Linked DNA regions of Homo sapiens. The protein of the gene in region 2 interacts with the protein of the main gene of each other region in a pairwise test. Each region holds a gene or a part of one and is shown on either strand. Other genes may lie near its edges. The genes, in order: ZNF490 and TEX19.

Evidence for each region.
Region 1: the proteins of TEX19 (region 2) and ZNF490 interact in binary tests that used the Homo sapiens proteins (3 or more experiments, as listed by UniProt).

The regions. Positions count from the first base shown.
Region 1 is NC_000019.10:12,598,483-12,608,950, reverse strand, and holds part of ZNF490 (zinc finger protein 490), read left to right. Parts: intron 1-10,468. UniProt on the Homo sapiens protein: May be involved in transcriptional regulation.
Region 2 is NC_000017.11:82,353,066-82,363,817, reverse strand, and holds TEX19 (testis-expressed protein 19), read right to left. Parts: upstream 4,572-10,752; 5' UTR 4,533-4,571; intron 1,939-4,532; 5' UTR 1,668-1,938; coding exon 1,173-1,667; 3' UTR 43-1,172; downstream 1-42.

The DNA.
Region 1 (10,468 bases), on a different chromosome or scaffold from region 2:
TCCCAACACAGCCACCTGCATCCTTTGGAATATCACATTTGGGCTGGGTGCAGTGGCTCATGCCTGTAATCCTGGCACTTTGGGAGACTGAGGTAGGAGGATTGCTTGAGTTCAGGAGTTTGAGACCAGTGTGGGCAATGTAGTGAGACTCTGTCTCTACAAAAAATAAAAAAAATGGCTGGGTGTAGTAGCTCATGCCTGTAATCTCAGCACTTTGGGAGGCAAGGTGGGTGGATCACTTGAGGCCAGGAGTTGGTTTCCAACCTGGCCAACATGCTGAAACCTCATCTCTATTAAAAATATTTTTTAAGTTAGCTGGGCATGGTGGGAGGCACACCTGTAATCTCAGCTACTTGGGTGGCTGAGGCATGAGAATCACTTGAATCTGGGAGGAGGAGGTTGCAGTGAGCTGAGATCGCGCCACTGTACTCCAGCCTGGGCAACAGAGTGAAACTCTGTCTCAAAAATAAATAAATAAATAAATAAATAAATACATAAATAAATAAAGATAAAAAATTAGCTGGGCATGGTGGCATAGTCCCAGGTCCTCGGGAGGCTGAGACGGGAGGATGGCTTCAACCTGAGGCTGCGGTGACCTGTGATGGTGCCACTGCACTCTAGCCTGGGCAACAGAGCGAGACCCTGTCTCAAAAAAACACAAAAACCACAAATTTGGAGTCATGTTTACTTGTTTGCATAGTTTGGACAAAACGATCACTGCAGTTCTGACCTTCAAGGTAAACATGCAAGAGACGGATAAGGCACGGGTTAGTGTCGGGGGTACCTAATTTTGTCATTGCTATCAGTTCCCTGATCTAAGTGACTCTGTAATCCCAACACTTTGGGATGCTGAAGTGGGAGGAATTTCATGGGGAATGACTACAGCCTTCATGCATGTGGATACATAATCTGAGCCTGAATATGTCATCTTCACATAAAACCACGATTTGGTTATTGACTGTTCTGTGAATCCTGGGTTCCTTGGCTCATGGGAGCTTCAATGTGGCTTTTCTGGCCAGGAACTTGCCTGACATTTTCAATAAGCCAATCCTTAAGTTCAGCATGCTGGTATTTTTCAGTGTCTGGGTCACCGTCCTTCCTGTCTACCAAAACCCGAAATGGGGAAGCTATCAATCCTGGCCTCCACTGATTTGCTGCTGCTTCTCTGTCTGCAGATGCTATGCTGTTCTTGTTTGTTCCTTTTTTTTTTTTTTGAGACAGGGATCTTGCTGTGTTGCCCAGGCTGGTCTCAAGCTCCTGGCTTCAAGCAATTCTCCTGCCTCAACCTCCCAAAGTGCAGGGATTACAGGTGTGAGTCACTATGCCTGGCCTGAGTTTTCAGTTTTTGACAGTGCTCAGTATATGTGGTGGCACACATTTGGACTTTAATACTGAGAAGTTCCATTATTATTACTGTTATTATATTGTATTACTATTACTATTATGTTCTGTCACCCAGGCTGGAGTGCAGTGGCAAGATCACAGCTCACTGTAGACTCAACTTCACAGGCTCCCTAGTAGCTGGGACTAGTAGCTGGAACTAGGACTAGGTGTGCGCCACCACGCTTGGCTAATTTTAAAAAAATTCTTTTTTTAGCCAGGTGTGGTTGTGCACATCTGTAATCCCAGCTATTTGGGAGGCTGAGGCAGGAGAATTGCTTGAACCCAGAAGGTGGAGGTTGCAGTGAGCCGAGATCATGCCACTGCACTCTAGCCTGGGTGACAGAGTGAGACTCCACCTCAAAAAAAAAAAAAAATTTAAATTTTTTAAATTTTAGAGACAGGGTCCTGCTATGTTGCCCAGGCTGATCTTGAACTCCTGGACTCAAGTGATCCTCCCACATCAGCCTCCCAGTGTTGGGATGGTAGGCGTGAGCTACCACACCTGGCCAATTTCATTATTACTTATGAGCCATATGAGTTTAGACAAGACTTTGTGCTCTCCATACTTAACTTTTTTCATTTGCAAGATGGGAGGTATGATTGGGTGGGGCTAATCAAATGAAATACTAATGATTATGAAATCACATTAGTCACCACAGTGATGTGCAAACATAAATTATTGAAATATTGAATAAAAATGGGATTTTATTTGTTCTTTAGTAAAACACAAAGCTGTTCATTTTTTTTCTTTCCTAACATGTGCTGGAAATCTACCATATGGAAATGATACTTGTGAATGGTCATGGACTTTTAGGCCTTTGCTGATCATTAAAATAAAAATCTTCCAGTGATTCCTTTTATAAAAGGACATCAAAGCCTGGGCAACAGAGTGAAATCCTGTCTCTATAAAAATAAAAAAAATTGGCCAGGTGCAGTGGCTCACACCTGTAATCCTAGCACTTTGGGAGGCTGAGGTGGGTAAATCACTTGAGGTCAGGAGTTCAAGACCAGCCTGGCCAACATGGCGAAACCGCATCTCTACTAAAATACAAAAAATTAGCGGGGCATGGTGGTGCACACCTGTAGTCCCAGCTACTCAGCAGGCTGAGGCAGAAGAATTGCTTGAACTCAGGAGGCAGAGGTTGCAGTGAGCTGAGATCATGCCACTGCACTCTAGCCTGGGCAACAGATAGAGACCCTGTCTCAAAAAAAAAAAAAAAAAAAGAATTACCCAGGGTGGTGGCATGTGCCTGTAGTCCCATAGCAGAGATCCCTTGAGTCCAAGAGTTGGAGGCTACAATGACCTATGATTGTGCCACTGCACTCCAGCTTGGGCAATAGAGTGAGTCTCTGTCTCTAAAATGAAAAAAAAAAAAAATCCTATTTTAGGCCAGGCGCGGTGGCTCATGCCTGTAATCCCTGCACTTTGGGAGGCCGAGGTGGGTGGATCACCTGAGGTCGGGAGTTTGAGACCAGCCTGACCAACATGGAGAAACCCTGTTTCTACTAAAAATACAAAATTAGCGGGACGTGGTGGCACATGCCTGTAATCCCAGCTACTTGGGAGGCTGAGGCAGGATAATTGCTTGAACCCGGGAGGTGGAGGTTGCGGTGAGCCAAGATCATTGCACGCCAGCCTGGGCAACAAGAGCAAAACTCTGTCTCAAAAAAAAAAATTAAATTAAAAAAAAATCCTATTCGAGGGTCTCAAATACACTTTTCTTAAAGGGATAGGAAAACCATTAACAAAATATTTAACAGAATACTTCACTTCTGGTCCACCAATAACCACTTCTCAAGCAGACACCAGCTGGGTGTGCTATATAATTCAATTTAATTGTGACAGTATCTACCTGGAGACGGAGTCCAATACCAAAAGCTAACGGCTCACAAGAATGCCCCTCACTGCAAATGTCAGTTGTAAGTCCCAGGATGTGACCTATGCTTCTGACCAACAAGCTGTAAATCAGGGTTTTCATGACCCACTCTTTGGGTTTGATTAATTTGCTGTAGCAGCCTACAGAACTCACAGAAACACTTTACTTACATTCACCCATTTATTACAAAGTGTTTTTTTTTTTTTTAATAGAGCAGGGTTTCACTCTGTCTCCCAGGCTGGAGTGCAGTGGCAGGATCATAGCTCATTGCAGCCTTCAACTCTTGGGATCAAGCGATCCTCCCTCATCAGCCCCGCAAGTAGCTAGGAATATAGGCATGTGCCACCACACTCAACTAATTATTTATTTTTTGTAAAGTTAGGGTCTCGCTCTGTTGTCCAGGCTAGTCTCAACCTCCAGGTCTCAAGAGATCCTCCCACCTCGCTCCTCTCAAAGCACTGAGATTATAGGAGTGAGTCACTGTGCCTAGTCTTACAAAGGATATTTTATTATTTATTTATTTGTTTACTCTTTATTTTGAGACAGGGTCTCACTCTGTTGCCAGGCTGGAGTGTAGCAGCACGATCTTGGCTCACTGCAACCTCCATCTCCAGGGTTCAAATGATTCTCGTGTTTCAGCCTCCCGAGTAGCTGGAATGACAGGCATCCTCCACCACGCCCAGCTATTTTTGTATTTTTAGTAGAGAAGGGGTTTCACCATGTTGGCCAGGCTGGTCTCGAACTCCTGACCTCAAGTGATCCATCTGCCTTGGCCTCCCAAAGTGCTGGCATTACAGGTGTGAACCACTGCACCCAGCCTACAAAGGATATTTTATTTTATTTATTATTATTATTATTTTTTTTTTGAGACGGAGTTTTGCTCTTGTCGCCCAGGCTGGAGTGCAATGGCGCGATCTCAGCTCACTGCAACCTCTGCCTCCCAGGTTCAAGCAATTCTCCTGCCTCAGCTTCCCAAGTAGCTGGGATTACAGGCGCCCACCACCACGCCTGGCTAATTTTTTTTTTTTTGAGATAGAGTCTCACTCTTTTGCCCAGGCTGGAGTGCAGTGGCACAATCTTGGCTCACTGCAGCCTCTGCCTACCAGGGTCAAGTGATTCTCCTACCTCAGTCTCTCAAGTAGCTGGATTACAGGCCCATGCCACCATGCCCAGCTAATTTTTTTTCTGTGTGTCTATGTTTTTAGTAGAGGCAGGGTTTCACCATGCTGGCCAGGCTGGTCTCGAACTCCTGACCTCATGATCCGCCCACCTTGTCCTCCCAAAGTGCTGGGATTATAGGTGTGAGCCACTGCACCTGGCCTAATTTTTGTATTTTAAGTAGAGATGGGGTTTCATCATGTTGGTCAAGCTGGTCTTGAACTCCTGACCTCAAGTGATCCACCTGCCTCAGCCTCCCAAAGTGCTGGGATTACAGGCGTGAGCCACCACACCTGGCCCTACAAAGGATATTTTAAATGATACGAATGAACAGCCAGATGAAGAGATACCTCCAGGCATATGGTTATGTTCTTATTTACCAACCAGAAGGCTCTCTGAGCCGTGTTTTTGGGTTTTTATGGTGGCTTTATTATGGTGACATGATTAATCACATCATTCACTATGGGTGATCAACTCAACCTTCAGTTTTCTCTTCCCTCCCTGGAGGTGGGGACAGAGCTGAAAGTTTCAAAGCTCCAGTCACATGGTTGGTTCCCTGGCAACTAGCCTCACATCCTGTGGTTTGTAGGAGCTTTCCAAAAATCACCCCATTAACATAAACTTAGCTGTGGTGGAAAGGGGATGGTTATGAATAACTAAAGACATTTCTTCCACCTGTCACTCTGGAACTCTTCTAGAGCTATTTTAAGAACTGAATACAAAAGGCCATTTTTTTTTTTTTTTGAGATAGGGTCTCCTTCACTCTGTCACCCAGTGACAGTGGCACAATCTTGGCTCAATGCAGCCTCCACCCCCGGGTTCAAGCAATGATCCCACCACAGCCTCCTGAGTAGCTGGGACTACAGGTGCACGCCACCACATCTGGCTATTTTTTTCTATTTTTAGTAGAGATGGGTTTTCGCCATGTTGCCCAGACTGGTCTCAAACACCTGAGCTCAAGCATCCACCTACCTTGGCCTCCCAAAGTACTGGGATTACAGATGTGAGCCCCAGCGCCCAGCCTTTTTTTTGTTGTTTGTTTTTTGAGACAGAGTCTTACTCTGTCACCTAGGCTGGAGTGCAGTGGTGTCATCACAGCTCACTGCAGCCTTGACTTCCCTGAGCTCAGGTGACCCTCCCACCTCAACCTCTCAAGTAGCTGAGACTATAGGCACACACCCCTATGCCTGGCCAATTTTTGTATTTTTTGTAGAGATAGGATCTCACTGTGTTGCCCAGGCTGGTCTTGAACTCCTGGGCTCAAGCATCCTGCCTGCCTCAGCCTCCCAACATGGTGGGATTACAGGCAGCCCAAATATTTTAACAAAAGATACTCCAATTGCTCTAGTCGCTTAGGAAATTACAAGGTTTTTAGCAACTGTGAGCCAGGAACCCTGGACAAAACCCAAATTATATATTTCACAATATCACAACTTTCTTTTCCACCAAACTGGGGGGTGGTACTCAAAATGATACCCTCTCTCTGCAGTTTGATTCAATTATAACTTGGATATTCTCTAAGAATCCATAGTTCTTGTCTGTGTGTCAACTGGGAAATCACTGTGGATTTGAATAAGTACTCTGCACATAAGAAAAACCCATGATGGGGCCAGGTGTGGTGGCTCACACCTGTAATCCCAGCACTCTGGGAGGCTGAGGCAGGTGGATTGCATGAGCCCAGGAGTTTGAGACCAGCCTGGCCAACATGGCGAAACCTTGTTTCTACTAAAAATACAAAAAACTAGCCCGGCGTGGTGGTGCGCACCTGTAGGCCCAGCTTCTCGGGAGGCTGAGGTGAGAGAATCATCTGAGCCTGGGAGGTCAAGGCTGCAGTAAGCCGAGATCACACCACTGTACTCTAGCCTGCATAACCATAGTGAAACCTTGTCTCGACAAAAAAAAAAAAAAAGAAATATACATGATGGGCTGCACTGTGTAGATGACCATTACCCTCTAGGAAGACCTCAGTGGTTTTCTTTTTTTGAGACAGAGTCTTGCTCTATTGCCCAGGTTGGAGTCCAGTGGCATCATCTCGGCTCGCTGCAACCTTTGTCTCCTGGGTTTAAGTGATTCTCCTGCCTCAGCTTCCTACATAGTTGGGACTACAGGTGCCTGCCACCATGCCCAACTAATTATTTTTATTTTTTTGGTAGAGATGGGGTTTCACCCTGTTGGCCAGGCTGGTCTCAAGTTCCTGACCTCAGGTAATCCTCCTGCCTCGGCCTCCCGCAGTGCTGGGATTACAGGCGGGAGCTACCGCGCCAGCCAAAGGTTTTCTGATATACAATTTAATTTATGTCACCCAGTCTCCAGTAGCAGCAAAATTTTCATATCAAATACATGAGGCAATTCAGACATAGAGATCAATGGCATGAAATTGAAATTCCAGAAATAGGCCCATATATGTGTGTGTGTGTGTGTGTGTGTGTGTGTGTGTGTGTGTGTGTGTGTGTATATAGTGAACTGAGTTTCAAAAACGGTGCCAGGAATCGGGAAATAATATTATTTTCTTTTTTTACTTTTTTCTTTTTTTTTTGTTGAGTCAGAGTCTTGCTCTCTCGCCCAGGCTGGAGTGCAGTGGTGCGATCTCGGCTCACTGCAAGCTCCGCCTCCCGGGTTCACGCCATTCTCCTGCCTCAGCCTCCTGAGTAGCTGGGACTACAGGAGCCTGCCACCAAGCCCGGCTAATTTTTTTTGTATTTTTAGTAGAGACAGGGTTTCACCATGTTAGCCAGGATGGTCTCGATCTCCTGACCTCGTGATCCGCCCGCCTTGGCCTCCCAAAGTGCTGGGATTACAGGCCTATGCCACCGCACCTGGCCTAGAATATTATTTTCATAAATTGGTGTTGTGACAGTTGGATAGACATACAAAAAATAATAAAATTGGGCCGAGCACAGTGGCATGATCATCTGAGTCCTGGAGTTCAAGACCAGCCTGGGCAATATAGTGCAACCTCATATCTTATAAAAAAAAATTAGCCAGGTTTGTGGCATACACCTGTAGTCCCAGCTGCTTGATGGCTGAGGGAGGAGGATTGCTGGAGCCTGGGAGTTTTGGCTGCAGTGAGCTATGATTGTACCACTCTAGTCTAGCCTGGGTGACAGAGTGAGACCCCAATTCTTTGTTTTTGTTTTTTTTTTTTCAGACGGAGTCTTGCTCTGTCACCCAGGCTAGAGTGCAATGGCGCAATATCGGCTCATTGCAACCTTCGCCTCCCGGGTTCACACCATTCTCCTGCCTCAGCCTCCCGAGTAGCTGGGACTACAGGTGCCCGCCACCACGCCTGGCTAATTTTTTGTATTTTTAGTAGAGACGGAGTTTCACCGTGTTAGCCAGGATGGTCTCGATCTCCTGACCTCGTGATCTACCCGCCTTGGCCTCCGAAAGTGCTGGGATTACAGGCGTAAGCCAACGCACCTGGCCTTTTTTTTTTCTTTTTTTTTTGAGACAGGGTCTTACCCTGTCTCCCTGACTGGAAAGCTGTGAGCCTCAGCTCACTGCAGTCTCTGCCTTCCAGGCTCAAAGGATCCTCCCACCTCAGCCTCCCAAGTAGCTGGGGCTACAGGCGTGCACCACCACACCTGGCTAATTTTTGTATTTTTTGGAGAGACAGGTTGTGTCATGTTGGCCAGGCTGGTCTGGAACTCCTGGGCTTAAGTGATCCACCCACCTTGGCTTCCCAAAGTGCTAGGACAAGAGTCCTGAACATTTTTTCTCTATTCTGATGTCACAATCTCCAAAGTTATCTAAAACTTGCATTCAAGAGCACCTGTTAGAGCTTTATAGCTGATTATAAAACCACCTTCTAAAGAGGACCAAGACAAGACAACAATTATTTATGGATGACAAAGTTTTAGGGTAGCCATAGCTAAAGACACAATTGACAAGGAAATCTGTTACTCTGTGGCACACAATAATTTAACATAATAATTATAATTATTACTGATAACATACACTGATATATCAGAATTACAAGAGTTTTCCATCATTTTGGAACACATACCAATAACATATATATACAGATATAGTCCAAAGAAAGCCATACTCCATTTTATATTTGACTTTGCTTCCTCTATGATTTTTGTACCAAATAAGCCAAATTTCACATTTACATTAGTATACTATTACTGTTAAACCCAATTCTTTTCTTTTCTTTTTTTTTTTGAGACAGAGTCTCGCTCTTTCGCTCAGGCTGGAGTGCAGTGGCACATCTCGGCTCACTGCAACTTCCACCTCCTGGGTTCACACCATTCTCCTGCCTCAGCCTCCCGAGTAGCTGGGACTACAGGTGCCCGCCACCATGCCTGGCTAATTTTTTGTGTTTTTTTTTTAGTAGAGACGGGGTTTCACCATGTTAGCCAGGATGGTCTCGATCTCCTAACCTCGTGATCTGCCCGCCTCGGCCTCCCAAAGTGCTGGGATTACAGGCGTGAGCCACGGCGCCTGGCCTAAACCCAATTCTTAATAAAACCTTATAGACATATTTACCCAATTTTATAGACATATTTACGCCAATGTTTGGCAATTTTTATAGATTTTTTATTACCCTTTACAATTTTTGTTAAAGAGCAGGTTAGTGTTCTAAAAGAAAGCCGTTGTGCTTTTATTTTAATATTCAATTTACAGAAAAACTGGATAATACCCCCTTTAACTTTAGCCAATATGTTTACACACAGAATTTCTTTTACAATCAACCTTCCACAACTTGCTTAAACTTTCAGCTTTATTTTATCTAATTTAATCCATTAACCTTTTATTTAGGCAAAAAAAATCCACATTCCCATGCCTTCTTATAATCTTTTTACCAAAAGTATACTCTACTTTCCTTACACACCTTGCATGTAAAACTGTTTTTTCCAGTAGTCTCAATTACATGTTACAATATTGATTCTTAGCAACTTTTACTTTTGGTGAAAAACCTGGTAAGTGATTTTAATTATGGACCAGGTGGGGAGCCTAGGACCTAGACAGAAGTGCAGATAAGGTCTGACTCATTCTAGCATCTAACTTCTTGTGTCCCAGGCCTTCCCTAGCTGTAAAGCAGGCAGTTGTACAGTTAAGAGTCATAATGGCATTTTATGAAGCATTCAGGAGGCCTAAACACCTTTAAATTCTACAACATTTCTTCCATAAGTTCCCTTTCATAAATTCTTTCATGACTTACACTCTATGATATGCCTTGACTTTCTGACTTGTCCTAAACATCCCTCTTTTTAAACAACCAGTCATTTTTCTTTAGGACAAGAATCTATCATACAAGATCCTTTTTTATATAAAATATCTTTTCTTTATGCTTTTTTTAACCAAAAATACTTATTTATTTTTATAACTTTCTTTATGTCTCTTTTTTTTTCTTTTCTTTCTTTCTTTTTTTTTTTTTTTTTTTTTTTGAGACAGAGTCTTGCTCTGTTGCCCAGGCTGGAGTGCAGTGGCGTGATCTTGGGTCACTGCCCAGGTTCAAGCGATTCTCCTGCCTCAGCCTCCAGAATAGCTGGGATCACAGGCACCCCGCCACCACACCCAGCTAATTTTTTTTTTTTTTTGAGATGGAGTCTCGCTCTGTTGCCCAGGCTGGAGTGCAGTGATGCAGTCTCGGCTCACCGCAACCTCTGCCTCCCAGGTTCAAGCTATTTTCCTGCCTCAGCCTCCCTAGTAGCTGGGACTACAGGTGCGCGCCACCATGCCTAGCTAATTTTTGTATTTTTAGTAGAGATGGGGTTTCACTGTGTTGGCCAGGCTGGTCTCGAACTCCTGACCTCATGATCCGCCTGCCTCAGCCTCCCAAAGTGCTGGGATTACAGGCATGAGCCACCGCGCCCGGCAGAATCCTGGGTTTTAAAAAGGGAGAATTATTGACGGGCATGGTGGTTCAGGCCTGTAATCCCAGCACTTTGGGAGGCCGAGGCGGGCAGATCCCAACCTAAGGTTGGGAGTTCGAGACCAGCCTGACCAACATGGAGAAACCCCGTGTCTACTAAAAATACAAAATTAGCCGGGCGTGGTGGCTCATGCCTGTAATTCCAGCTACTCGGGAGGCTGAGGCGGGA
Region 2 (10,752 bases):
GCCAATCAACAAAACTTGCTGAGGAATGACTTACACAGGAGCTTGTTTGAAAGCTTTTATGACTTTTTAAAATTAAAAACAACATATAGAGCAACAGGAATTAAATGGTTAAATTGCATCAACGGCCAACATTTAAAACCAGCTCTCCCTCCACTGTAGACCAGAGATCCTAGTGCTGCTGACAGGGTCTTGTGGCACCCCTGAGATTGTCCTGGCAAAGTCGAGAACACATCCAGGTCACCACAGATTCTGGTGTGTTCTGCAGAGCATGTGTTTTACAAGCAATGTCCCTCCCCATGGCCAAGGTGAAATAGGCACAAGTTCTGTGCCCTGCCCCCCATGTCACAAGCAGCACAACAGCCATTCAGGCCAACACATCCAGAACTATGTGACAATCAACTGGTAAGAACTTGTTTCCAGGTTATGAATATTTGTAATGCTTCCCTCTGAGGCCACAACAGGCCCTATCTCCCAGCCCCTAAAGTTGCTCCCCATGTTTCCTTTGCCAACTGCTCCCCTGGCTGTTGTGGAACAGCAATTGCTGGCCCTTCCCAGTCTCTGATGTCCTGGTGTGCCCAGGACAATGGCAGCTACATGAGCCTTAGTCTCTCAGTTCTGGGGCCCTGGACTGAGGCTGGAAACAGGGCAGCTCCCCCATGGCCGAGGCTCCTGCAACAGCCAGGCTTTCCTCAGGACCCCTGCTCTGTGTCTCAGGGGTGCTGAGATCCTGTTCTTGGCTGGAGGACTGTGGCTTACAGGCTGAGTCTCCCTTCTTGCTCTCCCTGTTGGTCCAGGGTGAATAAGAGACTATGGTGAATCCTCTTCTGCAGGGCTGAGGCTGCAGGGACCAGCTCTGCCCTGTGTCCTGTTAACGATGTTTCTAGAATGCTCAGCATCCACCAGTGCAGGTCCTGCTCTTGGGGTGCATCTTGGAGTCTCACCACCCACACTTCACCAGGCTCCAGCAGCAATTTCCAGTGCTGCCCTGGGGTCCTCAGGGCCCTGTCTGGGGTCATCTTCTGTAGGTAGATGGTATCATAGCAGCCCACCATGGAGACAAGCTGCAGGGCCAGTAACTAGGCCTCAGCCTCGGCAGGGTCCACTGCCCAGGTAATGCCCAGCTTCAACACCACGGGCTCCCCTGGGGGCAGGTCCACTTTGAGAAACCCCTGCTATGAAGGAAAGAAGCTTGGCCAGTGTGAGCAGGTAAGAAGCTCCTCAAATCTCCAGGGAAGACCCTGGGTCCAGTCAGCATCCTCAAGGCCCAGGCCCAGGGGCACAGCCTCCTGAGGCCATAGTTCAGTGGGGACAAAGTGGGGGTCCAGACCTGCATCTTCCAACCCTTCTGGGGCTGCTGCCAGGGTCCCTGGCCCCCATGCCTCAGAGCCCCCCTGCACAGGCTGTCCTGGGCTCTGCCCCCAGCTCAGCTCCATCCCTGAGGACCCCTCCTGCTCTGACTCTGCCTCAGTGTGCTCCATCAGCTCAGGGTCCCAGTTGTCTTCTTCCCAGTCCTCTGACTCCAGCAAGTCTTTAAAGTCTAGAAAGGCAGCCTTGAAGCAGGTGAAGCAAATGCTTAGCTGATCTCCATGTTGAAGCTGATACATCCAGGAGGCGTAGAGGTAGGACATGCCCTCTTCCTCATACCGCATGCTGACCGGAGGGCACATGGCCAGGCTGCCTGCCTACTGCCGGGGTGGACAGCAAGAGCTGGGCCTTCAGAGGATCTTGGACGGTCTGGCCACAGGTGCTGAGGCCAGTAGGATGCTGGGCGGCAGGGATGAAGGGGACAAGGAGCAGGAGGAGAAAGGGGTTTCCTATCCAGGGATTTGGGGTGGGGTGGATGACCTGGGTCCCAGCTCAGTGGGGACCTGCAGAGGGTGGAAGCTTGAACTTCTGGAAATGTCTTCAGCTTCTGCAGTTGCTGTGGTCTCAGGAGAGCTGGAAAGGCAAAGGAAGGGAGGTTAGGCACCCCCAGCAGGCAGGGTGGGGGCAAACTGTGGGGACCAGCAGGGGCAGGGATGTTGGGGTTCAGACTGGCCCTTTAGTGGGGACCCTGCTCAGTTTGAACAGCACCGGGGCTGGGAGGCCTTCAGTTCCTCCATCCGACCTCCCCGGGCTCATCAGCCACCCCCTACACCTCAGGGACCCCAACAGCCCATCAGCTTCACCTGACAGAACCTGGGGGAACATGAGGGAAACTGGCAGAGCCTGAGGGGACCTGATGGAAATTGAGGGAACCTGAAGGAAACTGGGGGAACCTGAGGGAACCTGAGGGAAACTGGGGGAACCTGAGGGAAACTGGGGGAAACTGAGGGAAACTGGGGGAACCTGAGAGAAACTGGGGGAAACTGAGGGAACCTGAGGGAAACTGGGGGAAACTGAGGGAACCTGAGGGAAACTGGGGGAACCTGAGGGAAACTGGCAGAGCCTGAGGGGACCTGATGGAAATTGAGGGAACCTGAAGGAAACTGAGGCAACTTGAGGAAACCTAAGGGAAACTGAGGGAAACTGGGGGAACCTGAGGGAAACTGGGGGAAACTGAGGGAAACTGGGGGAACCTGAGGGAAACTTGAGGGAAACTGGGGGAAACTGGGGGAACCTGAGGGAAACTGGGGGAAACTGAGGGAACCTGAGGGAAACTGGGGGAACCTGAGGGAAACTGGCAGAGCCTGAGGGGACCTGATGGAAATTGAGGGAACCTGAAGGAAACTGAGGCAACTTGAGGAAACCTGAGGGAAACTGAGGGAAACTGGGGGAACCTGAGGGAAACTGGGGGAAACTGAGGGAACCTGAGGGAAACTGAGGGAACCTGAGGGAAACTGGGGAAAACTGAGGGAACCTGAGGGAAACTGGGGGAACCTGAGGGAAACTGAGGGAACCTGAGGGAAACTGGGGGAACCTGAGGGAAACTTGAGGGAAACTGGGGGAAACTGAGGGAACCTGAGGGAAACTGGGGGAACCTGAGGGAAACTGGGGGAAACTGAGGGAACCTGAGGGAAACTGGGGGAACCTGAGGGAAACTGGGGGAACCTGAGGGAAACTTGAGGGAAACTGGGGGAACCTGAGGGAAACTGGGGGAACCTGAGGGAAACTTGAGGGAAACTGAGGGAACCTGAGGGAAACTGGGGGAACCTGAGGGAAACTTGAGGGAACCCGAGGGAACCTGAGGGAAACTGGGGGAACCTGAGGGAAACTGAGGGAACCTGAGGGAAACTGGGGGAACCTGAGGGAAACTGGGGGAACCTGAGGGAAACTTGAGGGAAACTGGGGGAAACTGAGGGAAACTGGGGGAACCTGAGGGAAACTGAGGGAACCTGAGGGAACCTGAGGGAAACTGGGGGAACCTGAGGGAAACTTGAGGGAACCTGAGGGAAACTGGGGGAACCTGAGGGAAACTGAGGGAACCTGAGGGAAACTGGGGGAACCTGAGGGAAACTTGAGGGAAACTGGGGGAAACTGAGGGAAACTGGGGGAACCTGAGGGAAACTGAGGGAACCTGAGGGAAACTGGGGGAACCTGAGGGAAACTGGGGGAAACTGGGGGAACCTGAGGGAACCTGAGGGAAACTGGGGGAACCTGAGGGAAACTTGAGGGAAACTGGGGGAAACTGGGGGAACCTGGGGGAAACTGGGGGAACCTGAGGGAAACTGAGGGAACCTGAGGGAAACTGGGGGAACCTGAGGGAAACTTGAGGGAAACTGAGGGAACCTGAGGGAAACTGGGGGAACCTGAGGGAAACTTGAGGGAAACTGGGGGAAACTGGGGGAACCTGGGGGAAACTGGGGGAACCTGAGGGAACCTGAGGGAAACTGGGGGAACCTGAGGGAAACTTGAGGGAAACTGAGGGAACCTGAGGGAAACTGGGGGAACCTGAGGGAAACTTGAGGGAAACTGAGGGAAACTGGGGGAACCTGAGGGAAACTGGGGGAACCCGAGGGAAACTTGAGGGAAACTGGGGGAACCTGAGGGGAACTTGAGGGAAACTGGGGGAACCTGAGGGAAACTGGGGGAAACTGAGGGGAACTTGAGGGAAACTGAGGGAACCTGAGGGAAGCTGGGGGAAACTGAGGGAACCTGAGGGAAACTGAGGGAAATTTGAGGGAAACTGGGGGAAACTGAGGGAAACTTGAGGGAAACTGAGGGAACCTGAGGGAAACTGGGGGAACCTGAGGGAAGCTGAGGGAAACTTGAGGGAAACTGGGGGAACCTGAGGGAAACTTGAGGGAAACTGAGGGAACCTGAGGGAAACTGAGGGAAACTTGAGGGAAACTGAGGGAACCTGAGGGAAACTGAGGGAACCTGAGGGAAACTGAGGGAAACTTGAGGGAAACTGAGGGAACCTGAGGGAAACTGAGGGAAATTTGAGGGAACTTGGAGAACCTTAGGGAACCTGAGGGAAACTGAGGGAAATTTGAGGGAAACTGAGGGAACCTGAGGAATCCTGGCCCCGCTTCAGCCTCCCAACCCCTCACCCAGCACCAGGCCGTGTCTCCGAGACCCCTCCTCAGAGACCCCTCCTCGGGAGATCTCACCATCCTGGTGTCTCTGTTCATGTGGGCACCCAGGGAAAGGAGGAGGCAGAGCCCATTTGGGTATATAAAGGGCCATTTCCCATGGTGCTCTGGGCTCATCTGCATATCTCCCATGAGCCTCAGTTTCCAGGAAATGAAAGTGCTGAGTCACCAGCTCCCTCCAAGGAGGGCCATGTGCAGCCCCTGGGCACCTGCAGGAAGGCCCTGGAGAGGCAGCTCCTCTGGGGGCTGGAGATTGGGGTGGGTGCTCTCCGTCTGCAGGCTGGCACAGGGTGAGCATCCAGCCTGTGGTTGCTGGCCCGTCGTGGGCACGACGTCCTGGTCCTGCCGCGTTTGTAAAACGTGATCCCTGCTTTGCTGTCTCTGTCTTAAAGTTCTCTGAATTTTAAGAACCAGCCAATTGTCAATTAGTTATTGTTTAAACACATTTTCCCCTTTGTGGTTCATCTCTTCGCTCTTTAAACAAGACGCTTATAAATTAACACTTGTTTTTTCAGTAGACTCTATTTTTTACAGCAGTTTTAGGTTCATAGCAAAATTGAGCCAAAAGCATGGAGCTCTCCCACCGCTCCCCTGCTCCTGCAGGTGCACAGCCTTCCCCAGTCCTCCCGTCCCAGCCATTTGTTACACGTTGTTATTATCATCATCGCCCTCTGCAGTTTCCATTATGCTTTCCTCCGGTGCTGTGCATTCTGCAGGTTTGGACACATGTATAATCATGCAGACCCACCACTCTAATATTGTACAGACGGGTTTCTCCGCCCCGATTCATCTGTGTTCTGCATTTTCATCACTCCCTCTCCCAGCCCCTGGCAACCAGGAATCTTTTGACTGTCTCCTTAATTTTGCCTTTTCCAAAATGTCACAGAGCTGGACTCATACATTATGTAGCCTTTTCAACTTCTTTTTTAGTAATACGCACTTTGGTTCTTCCATGTCTTTTGTGGTTTGATAGTTCACTTCTTTTTTTTTTTTTTTTTTTTTTTGAGACAGAGTCTTGCTCTGTCACCCAGGCTGGAATGCACTGGTGAAATCACAGCTACTACAGCCTCAACCTCCTGGGCTCCTGTGATTTTCTCACCTCAGCCTCCCAAATAGCTGGGACTACAGGTGCTGGTGCACACCCCGATAAGTTTTGTATTTTTTGTGAGACAGGGCCTCACCATGTTGCCCACACTGGTATCAAACACTTGGGCTCAAGTGATCCGCCTGCCTCTGCCTCCCACAGTGCTGGGATTACAGACGTGAGCCACCTTGCATGGCCAGCTCACTTATTTTTTAACACTGAATGGTATTCCATTGTCTGGATGTACCATGGTTTATTTATCCATTCACCTATGGAAAGACATCTTGGTTGCTCCCAGGTTTGGGCAATTATGAATAAAGCTACTACAAATATTCATGTGCAGGTGTCTGTAGACATAAGTTCTCAACTCATTTTGGTAAACTCTAAGGAGTGAGATTGCTGGATGCTGTGGTCAGAGTGTGTTTAGTTTTGTAAGAAAGTGACAAATTGTCTCACACAGTGGCCCTGTGGGAGGAACCCCCAAACCCTTTCCCTACATCCCCATGACCTCTGCTCCTCCCCACCTGGCAGCTGTCTGTGCCTGGCTCAGGTCATCCACACACCTGGGGCTGCCTGCCACCCCCACCAGGTTAGGGCTCAGATCAGGGCCACCCCTCACCCTGGGGCTTCCTCGTCCCAGTCCTGGGATAGGGGCAGGTGTGGGGCTTTGGCTGCCAGGTGTCCTGCTGTGGGTGGAGAGGGCAGTGAGCTCATTCCCTAAAGACTCGGGTGCCTGAGCTGTCTGGCTGGTCCCCTCAGGTGAGAGGAAAGTAGTGGTTGAGGGACCCCACAGAGAAGCCTGTTTATGGGTCTGGGGGTCAGAGGCTCCCGGGAGGAGCCCCCAGGTCCTGGTTTTCTCTGAAAAGGCCACTCAAGGCCTCGGGGCTGAGCTGTGGCTGCCCTGGCCAGAAGGGGGCCGGGGAGGGAGCCCTGCACCTGTCGTGAACACTCAGGGCTGGGCCAGTGGGCGCCTGGAGGATGAGGTCCCTCCCACCTGGCCCCTCCCAGCCTCAGTTCTCAGGACACAGCCCAGCCGGCAGCTGCCAGAGTCACTGCCTAAAGGAGGTTTTGACCGAGGAGCAGCAGAGCCCTCTGAGGGCCCCTGTGGTAAGCAGGCTCCTCGCTGGTTTGCATGGCTTTTTCACACAGTAGTTGCGTCGAGAATTTAATATGCTGCGACCTCGTTGCCAGCAGGAGCGGTGTGGGACCGGGAAGCTGACGGGGAAGTGTTGGCGGGTGCAGGGCAGCGTCCACTCTGGGAAGCTGTGGCCAGCGCGTCCTGGCCAGCCAGGGCCTGGGCAGGGACTTGCCTCTCGGGCCTCGGCCTCACCCTGGTCTGAGAGTGTAGGACCCTCTCAAGGTCCTCAGTCACCTCAGCAGCCTGGGACGGAGCCTTTGGATCGCTTCCTGGGCAGCTGGGTACAGGAGAGGCCACTTGAGACAGATGTTGGGATGGACAGCTGGATTTGAGGCCCAGAGGGAAACCGTGGCAAGACTTGGTGGGTGGATGGTACCAGAGGAACAGGACGTGGCCATAATCGGGGAATCCAACACTCCTGTATCTCCAGAAGGACCAGGCATTTCCCCAGCTGCAGAGACCACTGATGGGGCAGCACAGCCATTGTGGGGCCAAGGCCATGACCCGGAGCCACTGGGGCCGTAAGCCTGACACCCAGATTGCCCACGAGCCAGAACCCCATCCCCACCATCCTGGGGTGCACAAGCTCTTGTGTTAGGAACGGGTGAAGAGGGGGAGCTCAGGAAGCTGAACGCAACCCAGAGGGGGTGGACAAGCAGGGACAAGGCTGCCAGATGGGCCTGGCCAAGCTCAGGGGCCCCCAGCTACCTCGGGGGTGCAGGTGCCAGCTGAGCCCTGCAGAGGAATGGGGTGAGGCCACGTCACGCTCTTTGAGCACCGGCTTCCGAGCTCAAGCGGCTTCGTCTCTGTCTCACCCAGAATGCCTCGCGCAGATCCGGGGCCCAGAGAACATTCCAGAGATGCTTGTGGAGTGGAGCAGCTTTAATAAGACACATTCTTGCTTCTCTGTTGGCTTCTTACCTGTGTCCTCGGGATGGCTGCCAAGGTGCTACCAACCTGCTGCATCCCTGGCTGAGGCTCAGAGCCTCCTGGGCTGGTGCCTTCCTGGGCACAGGATCCCCAGCAAGTCCAGGAATCTGACCTGAGGTCACCAATCATGCCCAGGGAAACCAGCCAGCCCCCAAAGCCTCCAAAACCCAAGTGGGCTTGGTTCTGTTGGCAGGTGACCCAGCTGGAATCAAACAAGAAAGAAAAGTGTGTTTAGATCATCAGGTGACTCACCAAATAGAACTTTCTTGAAAACTGTTTAATAATCAAGACCAGGAAAAGATTATGGAATATTCTAGCAAAGTCCAAGTACTTGGATTTTAAAATCAACATTTATCTTACTGCTCTTATATTACAAAGTTCCGCCCTCACCTCCAGTCTCAACGTTTGCACAAAGCATTTCAGCAGCACATGCAATGGCGTTATGGTTGGCTTTTCCCTCTCGCTCCTCCGCACAGCACTGAAGAAGGACAGGAGCAGTTTTCTTTGTTTCTTGCATGAATTTACTACTGAGGCTCGTCAGAGAGAGGCTGCCTGTGGGAGTGATGCATGGCCTCTGCTTCCACGGAGAAAAGCCACACGGTGGTGGCCAGGGGTGGGATGCGCCCGTGGACATGGAGGACAGATGTGTTCTGAGAAGCTGCCTGTTTCTTTTGTTTGTTTTTGAGATGGACTTTCACTTTTGTTGCCCAGGCTGGAGTGCAATGGCGCGATCTCAGCTCACGCCAACCTCCACCTCCCGGGTTCAAGTGATTCTCCTGCCTCAGTCTCCCAAGTAGCTGAGATTACAGGTGCCTGTCACCATGCCCAGCTGATTTTTGTATTTTTAGTAGAGATGGGGTTTCACCATGTTGGCCAGGATGGTCTCAATCTCTTGACCTCGTGATCCACCCGCCTTGGCCTCCCAAAGTGCTGGGATGACAGGCATGAGCCACCGTGCCCAGCCGAGGTGGCTTCTTTACAACAGACTATCCAGGGGACCACAGTCACCCTCCCCTCACTCCCAGCCCACCCTTCCTGCTCATTTGCTTTGTCCACCTACTCAGCTCCGTGGCCCATTGGTGGCCTCCATCCTTCTGAAGGACCAAGAAGCCACTGCCATGTGGAAGCACCTCCACGTGCCCTGGTCAGGTCTGTCACCAGTGCTGTGTGAGGATCAGAACACCCTCGACCACACTGGCTCATCATCCAAATTGTAATCATGGACTTAGAGGCTGTCCTTTTAAAAATAACTTTTGGTATTGTTTGCTTATTTCAAAGTAAACAAATTCATTATCAAACATTTAGAAAACAGGCAAGCAAATAAGAGGAAAGAACATCACCAGTCACACATTCTCCAGAGAGTGCAAAAAGCAAGGTCTCTGTATCTTACTCTCAAGTAGGAAGAATGGTTGCAGGAGAGGAAGGAAGGAGAGAGGGCCTGGGCGCTGTACCCGGCTGTGGCCAGCTCTGTCCTGAACCCTCCTGGGGTCTGTCCTGAACCCTCCTGGGCTCTGTCCTGAACCCTTCTGGGGTCTGTCCTGAACCCTCCTGGGGTCTGTCCTGAACCCTCCTGGGCTCTGTCCTGAACACTCCTGGGCTCTGTCCTGAACACTCCTGGGGTCTGTCCTGAACCCTCCTGGGGTGGGATTTCCATAAGGTGGGCATTATTATCTTCCCTGGGCTGGGCCAGAGCCTGGTTGGGGCCTGGGGCCCCATCCTGAGTCCAGAGTCTGTGACTCCTCCATAGGCCCCAGGGCCTGTGCAGTGACAGTCCCTGAGCAGCAAAAGAGCAAATGAGTGCTGGGAATTGTGGGTCCCTTCCCTAAAAAGGCAGAGGTGGTGATCCCGCCCAGCCCAGGGTCTTCAAAACTGCAGGTACATCCTTGCTGTTCTGTCAAACACATCTGCAGATAACTTGAGTCCATCTAGGGTGGGTTTCCAGGCAGCTGGGGACCAAGTGAGGGGGTGGAGGCGGCCACGTGAGACCCCAGGAAGCAGAGCCCCCACCACCCCAGGAGATTTCTTCATCCACAGTGGCAAGGGTGGGGGCTGCCCTAAGATGTCAGCAAAGACCACCATTGGGGAAGGTCTTGGACATGACTCTGAGTGGTCCCATGGGGAAAGGGGACTGGTGTCTCCTGGAGGGAGATGCTGGAAGAAGGCCAGAGAGGAAGGATGGCCAGAAGTCCCCATTTCCATAGCCCAAACCTGTGGAAACACTGCCCCTGGGCAGCTCTGTGCCCCTGGCGACCTCCTGGTATGATGCAGCTTAGAAAGAAGCTGCCTGTCTCTCCATTGCCAGCCTTTTCTGGAAGTCTGGGTGCCTTCAGGTTTGGGGATACTGAAACATCCTCCCAATATCCCAGGGCTCCTGGCCTTTGAACACCCGCGAGGGGCGGGGCAGCCACACACTTGGGGGTCACGTTCCCTGGGACTCTCCCCTCTTGGCTTCCCCCCATCACCCAGGGCCAGGGAGGCCGGGGCAGGTGCAGACCCAATCCTGGCAGTTGGCAGCGGTTTCCAGGCGCCTGCGTGACCCTGTCTGTAGCCTACAGGAGCAGGTGCTGCCTGTGATGGGGGCCCTGGGCTCCAGCAGATGTAGGAAGGTATGAGAGTGCAGCCACCCTCCTACACCCTCTCTCCCTAAGGCCTCCATAGTAGATTTAGGGTTCATGCTACTGGGTGAGATGGAGTTGAGGGAGGGCCCGCAGTTCTAAAGATCTGGGTCACACTTGGGCTATAGGGCCCTGTTAGCCATGAACTCCTTCATCAAATAAACCAAATGTGGAAGACGCATACCTGGGGCCCTGGTGCTTGATTTTGTTTTCTGCTCTCATCTCTCATCACCCTACAAAATGCATCTCCATAAAAAGACATTAAACAGCCCCGCACGGTGGCTCACGTCTGTAATCCCAGCACTTTGGGAGGCCAAGGCAGGTGGCTCACCGGAGGTCAGGAGTTCGAGACCAGCCTGGCCAACATGGTGAAACCCCGTCTCTACTAAAAATACAAAAATTAGCTGGGCATGGTGATGGGAGCCTGTAATCCCAGCTACACGGGAGGCTGAGGCAGAAGAATTGCTTGAA